Homo sapiens: one gene and its partner. The protein of the gene in region 1 purifies or fractionates together with the protein of each later gene. This does not show direct contact. Each region holds a gene or a part of one and is shown in the gene's direction. Other genes may lie near its edges.

Evidence for each region.
Region 2: the proteins of BTBD17 (region 1) and PRDM16 purify together in Homo sapiens (affinity purification with mass spectrometry; one large-scale study listed by BioGRID and IntAct). This does not show direct contact.

What each region holds. Positions count from the first base shown.
Region 1 is NC_000017.11:74,355,754-74,359,015, reverse strand, and holds the end of BTBD17 (BTB/POZ domain-containing protein 17 precursor), read left to right. Parts: intron 1-1,284; coding exon 1,285-2,359; 3' UTR 2,360-2,600; downstream 2,601-3,262.
Region 2 is NC_000001.11:3,408,010-3,411,818, forward strand, and holds part of PRDM16 (histone-lysine N-methyltransferase PRDM16), read left to right. Parts: intron 1-3,374; coding exon 3,375-3,809. UniProt on the Homo sapiens protein: Binds DNA and functions as a transcriptional regulator. Displays histone methyltransferase activity and monomethylates 'Lys-9' of histone H3 (H3K9me1) in vitro.

The sequences.
Region 1 (3,262 bases):
TTCCAAGTTCCAGGCAACAGGAAAGGGGATAAGACAGAAGGGCAAAAAGGGTCTTCCTGTTAACCCGGAATCAGTTGCATTTAATCAGCCTTCCTGCAAATCCCAAACTGCGCCCATTGACCAGCAGTTAGTCACATGGCCAAGGCCAGAATGAGGGAGCCTGGGAAATGTGGTCTTTTATTCCCAGAGGCAATCACGCAGGGGAAAGGGGAGAAATGGACGTTGGGGAAGATGGCTGGCAGTGGCTGCCACACTCCTATAGAGGCAAGTGCGGTGCCGTGTGCCGGTGGGGACTGGCAGGAAAGGTGAGCCATGGGACAGTGGCAGAAGTAAGACGAAGAGATACTCAGCAGAAGTGATCACCAACAGTAGGAGAGGAAAAAGAAAGGTGAGGCTGCAAAAAAGAAATGGGGGCTCACACCTGTAATCCCAGCACTTTGAGAGGCCAAGGTGGGAGGACTGCTCAAGTCCAGGAGTTTGAGACCAACCTGAGCAATACAGAAAGACCCCATCTCAAAAAAAAAAAAAAAAAAAAAAAAAGCTGGAGTGTCGTGGCATGATGATCATAGCTCACTGCAGCCTTGAACTCCTAGGCTGAAGCTATCTTCCCACCTCAGACTCCCAGGCAGCTGGGACTACAAGCGTGCACCACCACACATGACTAATGTTTTAACATTTTTTATTTTTTGTAGAGATAGGGTCTTGCTATGTTGCCCAAGCTGGTCTTGAACTCCTGGCCTCAAGCAATCCTCCCATCTTGGCCTTCCAAAGTGCTGAGATTCCAGGTGTGAGCCACTAGCACCCACCTGGCCTGTAGCAAGATTCTTTATTCTCCTCTGGTTGTCACAGTAACCCTGAGGGGTGTGTGCCACTCCCCCTTTCCTAGGTGATTGATTAGCCTAAGGTTCACTGAAGTTAAGTGACTTGCCCAGACTCATGGCAAGGAGAAGGCAGGCCATGGATCCCAACCAGACTGGAAACCCCAAAGGCAGGAGCCACGTCTGTTTTGTTCCAGCCTAGGGCTGCACGCCTAGTAGAGGCACAGTCAATGCAGGCAATTTCTACATCACCGCGGAAACGGAAAGAAGAGCCTGTGAAGTAAGAATGGCCTGGAAGGGTCCTTGAAAGGAAAACATGGGAAGCCTCAGGGTGGGGCTTCCACTGTGTTTGCACCCGGACAGTGAAGCTCCAACTCCAGGCCGGGTCCCCTGTGGACTCTAAAAAATCTATCCTGGGAGGTGGGTACCGCCCTGACCCCGCCCCACCTCTCGGTCTCTCCCGCAGGTACCTGTACTGCGGGGAGCTGACCGTGCTGCTGACCCAGGCCATCCCCCTGCACAGACTGGCCACCAAGTACGGCGTGTCCTCCCTGCAGCGCGGCGTGGCCGACTACATGCGCGCGCACCTGGCGGGAGGCGCGGGCCCGGCGGTGGGCTGGTACCACTACGCGGTGGGCACCGGGGACGAGGCCCTGCGCGAGAGCTGCCTGCAGTTCCTGGCCTGGAACCTGTCGGCCGTGGCGGCCAGCACCGAGTGGGGCGCCGTGAGCCCCGAGCTGCTCTGGCAGCTCCTGCAACGCTCGGACCTGGTGCTGCAGGATGAACTGGAGCTGTTCCACGCGCTGGAGGCCTGGCTGGGTCGCGCGCGGCCGCCCCCTGCCGTGGCCGAGCGGGCGCTGCGCGCCATACGCTACCCCATGATCCCACCGGCACAGCTGTTCCAGCTGCAGGCGCGCTCGGCAGCCCTGGCGCGCCACGGCCCCGCGGTGGCCGACCTCCTGCTGCAGGCCTACCAGTTCCACGCCGCGTCGCCGCTGCACTACGCCAAGTTCTTCGACGTCAACGGCAGCGCCTTCCTGCCCCGCAACTACCTCGCGCCCGCCTGGGGCGCCCCGTGGGTCATCAACAACCCGGCCCGCGACGACCGCAGCACCAGCTTCCAGACGCAGCTGGGCCCGAGTGGCCACGACGCGGGCCGCCGGGTCACCTGGAACGTGCTCTTCTCGCCGCGCTGGCTGCCCGTCAGCCTGCGGCCCGTTTACGCGGACGCCGCGGGCACTGCTCTGCCCGCCGCGCGCCCGGAGGACGGCCGACCGCGGCTGGTGGTGACGCCGGCCAGCAGCGGCGGCGACGCGGCGGGCGTGAGCTTCCAGAAGACGGTGCTGGTGGGGGCGCGCCAGCAGGGCCGCCTGCTGGTCCGCCACGCCTACAGCTTCCACCAGAGCAGCGAGGAGGCCGGCGACTTCCTGGCGCACGCCGACCTGCAGCGGCGCAACTCCGAGTACCTGGTTGAGAACGCCCTGCACCTGCACCTCATCGTCAAGCCCGTATACCACACCCTTATCCGGACCCCCAAGTAGCCTCGGGGTCTGGGAATAAAGGCCTGGCCTAGGTGGTCCCTGTGGGTCTGGGAAGGGCAAGGCGAGCCTGGAGGTGGCAACAAGCCTGGTCCCCTGGATGGCCAGGCGCCGGCCACCCTAGGGCTGGGGTGGAGTCCAGGTGAGGCGTGGTAGACAAGATGCCTGGTTTCAAGAGCTGATTTCACAGCTGACTTGAAGGAACGTTCTTGGTCCTGAATAAACCGATGCTCAGAGTGGTAAAGGGATGATTGAACCACTCAGTTTCTGGGTAAAAACAACCCAGGGAGGGTCCCACAAGCCAGGGGGTTTAGGGGTTTCACTCCCCTTTGTTGAGCTTTCCCCCCACCCAGACACAGAACTAGGGCAGGTAAAAGCATCCACATGGTCACAGCAACCCACCTGCCTGGGAGACAGGGAGCGCCCCATTCCCCTTGCGGGGGAGTCAGGGAGCACCCCATTCCCCTTGCAGGAGTTTCCTCACTTTGAGGCTGAGGGGCTTAGCTGGGCAGTTTCTGAGCCCTGACCTCGAGGGGCAACCGCCTCATCTGGGTTGTGAGACTTTCTGGCATCTGGGCCGCCTCAGGTCCCTGACCTCTCCTGGGAGGGTGCCTGGGCAGGTGTGAAGGCCAGTGGGATAGGGACATAACGGATCTTGCTAGCCCCACCATGGGGAGAGGCCTCAGGATCTAGAGAAAAACCCCTCTCCCCCAGGTATTTGTAGGTTGGTGCTATATAGCGAGCCAGGGGTAGATGGGGACTAGGGGGAGCGGGAGTTGGTTGAATCTTAGTCATGGCCACCCCACATTCCAGACAAGGTCAAATTTCCAACACAACCATCAAGACCCAAATGGGATTTTATTGTTAAAAAGGAAGGGTGAGAAAAAACCACTGCCAAGTAACAAA
Region 2 (3,809 bases), on another chromosome or scaffold:
CCCCAGGCCACTGCACAGTGTCCTTTGGTGCAACTGCAGAAGGGGGTCTTCAGGCTTGGAGAGGAGAATTTGCAAACAAGTGAGGGAGTCCAAATGGCGTGGCCCTTTCCAGGAATGGTCAGTTGCTTGCAGGAGAGGTCACAGCTGCGCAGGCGCTCATGGCCAGACTCCGTGTCCACCTGCTGGGTGACACACCCATGGCACAGGCAGATGGAAGCCCTAAGCCCCCACCTCACTGGCCACACAGACGGAGGGGGTGTCATTCCTGGTGGTGTCTTTCCCACCAAGGCGCTCACCTGTGCCCTGGGCTGTGTACAAACGTGTGTGTGCATGGGTGTAAGAGAAGGGGTGGGTAGAGCGAGAGGAGAGGAGAACAGGACAGAGAGGAAGTATAATATCTGGGAATGAGGTGCACAGGCTCCCACTGGGCACTTTGCAGAAAGAGCCTTTGCTTTAATAAGTATGCACGTGTGAGAGTGTGTGAGTGTGGGCGCGTGCACCGGTGCGTGTGTGTGTGAGAGCGTGTGTGTGGACACATGAGCTGGTGCATGTGTCGGTGCGTGTGAGAGCGTGTGAGTGTGGGTGTGTGAGCTGGTGTGTGTGTGAGTGCATGAGTGTGGGTGCGTGAGCTGGTGCCTGTGTTGGCATGTGTGAGAGTGTGTGAGTGTGAGCACGTGAGCCGGTGCATGTGTTGGCGTGCATGAGAGTGTGTGAGTGTGGGCGCGTGAGCCGGTGCATGTGTTGGCACACGTGAGAGTGCATGAGTGTGGGCGCGTGAGCCGGTGCGTGTGTGTGAGCGCGTGTGGGCGCGTGAGCTGGTGCGTGTGTTGGAGGATGTGAGAGCACGAGGGTGGGCACGTGAGCTGGTGCGTGTGTGTGTGAGAGCGCATGAGGGTGGGCGTGTGAGCCAGTGCTTGTGTTGGCACGCATGAGAGTGAGGGGCGTGTGAGCCAGTGCATGTGTTGGCACGTGTGAGAGCATGTGAGGGTTGGCGTGTGAGCCGGGGCATGTCAGTGTGTGTGAGTGTGGGCGTGTGGGCCGGTGCGTGTGTCGGCGCACGTGACAGCGTGAGTGTGGGCGCGTGTCTGTGAGTGCGAGTGTGGGCGTGTGAGTTGATGCATGTGAGTGTGTGAGTGTGGGTGTGTGTGAGTGAGTGTGGGCACGTGAGTTGGTGCGTGTGTGTGTGAGAGTGTGGGCGCGTGAGTTGGTGCGTGTGGGTGTGAGAGTGTGTGAGTGGGGCACAGCCAGGGTGTGCTTGTTTGGCCGGCAGGGCTGAGTGCCTCCCCGAGGGCCAGGTAGGTGACCGAGGGGTATTTACAGACCCTCCCTCTGGAGGGTCACCTGTCCATCAGCAGCCCTCCAGAGAGGGCAGATTTGATGAAACGAGACAAAGTTCTTCTCCCCTCAGCCTTGAAAACGCCCCGCCAGGCTGGACGAGCAGGAAGGTAGAGCGGTTAATATAAATAGATATCGTGATGAAAGAACACGATCATCTTAGGGGAAAAGCTCCCAGCTGGAGTCGAAGGAGATCAGGCAGCCGACGATTTCTGGTGAGCAAGAAGCTTGCTGAAATCATTGTTTCCACCACGCCGTGTTTAGGAAGCAAATTGTCCTACAGAGAGAGACACTCGCCGGGATGTGTGTGTGTGGTGTGCGTGTCTGTGGTGTGTGTGTGCGTGTGTGTGGTGTATGTGCATGTGTGTGGTTTGTGTGGTGTGTGTAGTGTGGGTGTGTGTGTGGTGTGGGTGTGAGTGTGTGTGGTTGTGTGTGGGTGTGTGGTGTGGGTGTGTGTGGTGTATGTGTGCATGTGTGTGGTTGTGTGTGGGTGTGTGGTGTGGGTGTGTGTGTGGTGTTTGTGTGCATGTGTGTGGTTGTGTGCATGTGTGTGGTGTGGTTGTGGGTGTGGTGTGTGTGTATGTGCATGTGTGTGGTGTGGGTGTGTGTGCGTGTGGGGGGTGTGGTTGTGTGTTTGCATGGGGGGGTGTGGGGGGTGTGCATGTGTGTGTGCTGTGTGTGCATGTGTGTGATTGTGTGTGTACGAATGTGGTGTGTGGTTGTGTATGTGCATGTGTATGAATGTGTGTGGTTGTGTGTGTGCGTGTGTGTGGTGTGTGTGCATGTGTATGAATGTGGTGTGTGGTTGTGTGTGCTGTGTGTGTGCATGTGTAGATGTGTGTGTGTTCCTCCCTTTTTTCTTAGAAAAACAAGAGGCAAAAGACAAGCTGGTGATTCGCTGACAACCGTTCACAGGCCTTTAGGAAAATGGCCGGAACCCCCAGGCCGCTGGGTCCTGGAGTCTAGCTGGGCCGGCACTGCCCTCTCCTGTTGAGAGAAGATGCTGGCACTCGCCAGCCAGAGCCGGGCACTGCCGCTTCCATCCCAGTCTGAGGAGGTTCCCAGTAGTAGGATTTTCACTTTTCTCAAGCAGGGAATAGTCCCTCTGCATAGGGCTCCTGCCCGGGGTGACCTCCTATCCATGTCCACCTCCAGCCATCTCCAAAGGGTAGTTGAGTACTGCCAGGAGCCCCAAAGTCCGGGATCCCCGAGTTGGGGCCTCCTGAGAACCTCAGGAACTGTCTGTGTCAACCCAGAGGCTGCCTTCTCCGGGGTGCAGGCAGCAGGATCTGGTGCGGAGAGGGGAGGTGGGAGGACACTAGGAACACTGTGAACTTCTAGAGAGCAGGAGGCACAGTCTGCGTGGTCAGCGTCCTGCCCCCACCCCTGCTAGAACAGCTGCAAAAGTGAAGACGAAGGCAGGGCGGGCCCTGAGCCAGCTTGCCCTGAATCCACTGATGGAGTGGCAGACACCATCACATGCATTCGCTTTCCCCGTGCCCCGCCCTGGAGAGCAGGTTCACCTTCCCCAGGGACTTCTGAAAATCTTGGCTCCTAAACTAGCAACACCGTGGGGTAGGAGGGTGGAAACAGCAGTGGCAAGCCCATTCTCCAGCAAAGAAGGTGGCGGCACAGCAGGAACTGTACCAACCGGCCCCCCGATCTGTGCTGGTCACTGGAGGCCAGTCTTGGGTGGGGCGCATGCACACACACATATGTTTCCACATGCTCATGTGTGCACACGTGTGCACACTCAGACACGCACGCTTGCAGAATACACACACGCCTGCCCAGACACGGACACTTACGCACACAGACACACATGCACCTGCCTGTGTATTTGTGTGTACGCACACACGCATGTATGCACAGTACACACATATACACCCATGCCCACGCACATGCACCCAGACAGACTGCTTCCAGCCCCAGCCTCGCCCCTCCAGCGGCTGGCTTTCCCAGTAATTTCATGTGGCGTTTTCAGCAGGGTTTCCCGGTCATTTCATGCGGGTTTGTCTTGGCTTCTGCTGATGTTTTAGGTGAGGTCTGCCACAAGTCCTACACGCAGTTCTCCAACCTGTGCCGGCACAAGCGGATGCACGCCGACTGCCGCACGCAGATCAAGTGCAAGGACTGTGGCCAGATGTTCAGCACTACCTCCTCCCTCAACAAGCACCGGCGCTTCTGCGAGGGCAAGAACCATTACACGCCGGGCGGCATCTTTGCCCCGGGCCTGCCCTTGACCCCCAGCCCCATGATGGACAAGGCAAAACCCTCCCCCAGCCTCAATCACGCCAGCCTGGGCTTCAACGAGTACTTTCCCTCCAGGCCGCACCCGGGGAGCCTGCCCTTCTCCACGGCGCCTCCCACGTTCCCCGCACTCACCCCCGGCTTCCCGGGCATCTTCCCTCCATCCTTGTACCCCCGGCCGCCTCTGCTACCTCCCACATCGCTGCTCAAGAGCCCCCTGAACC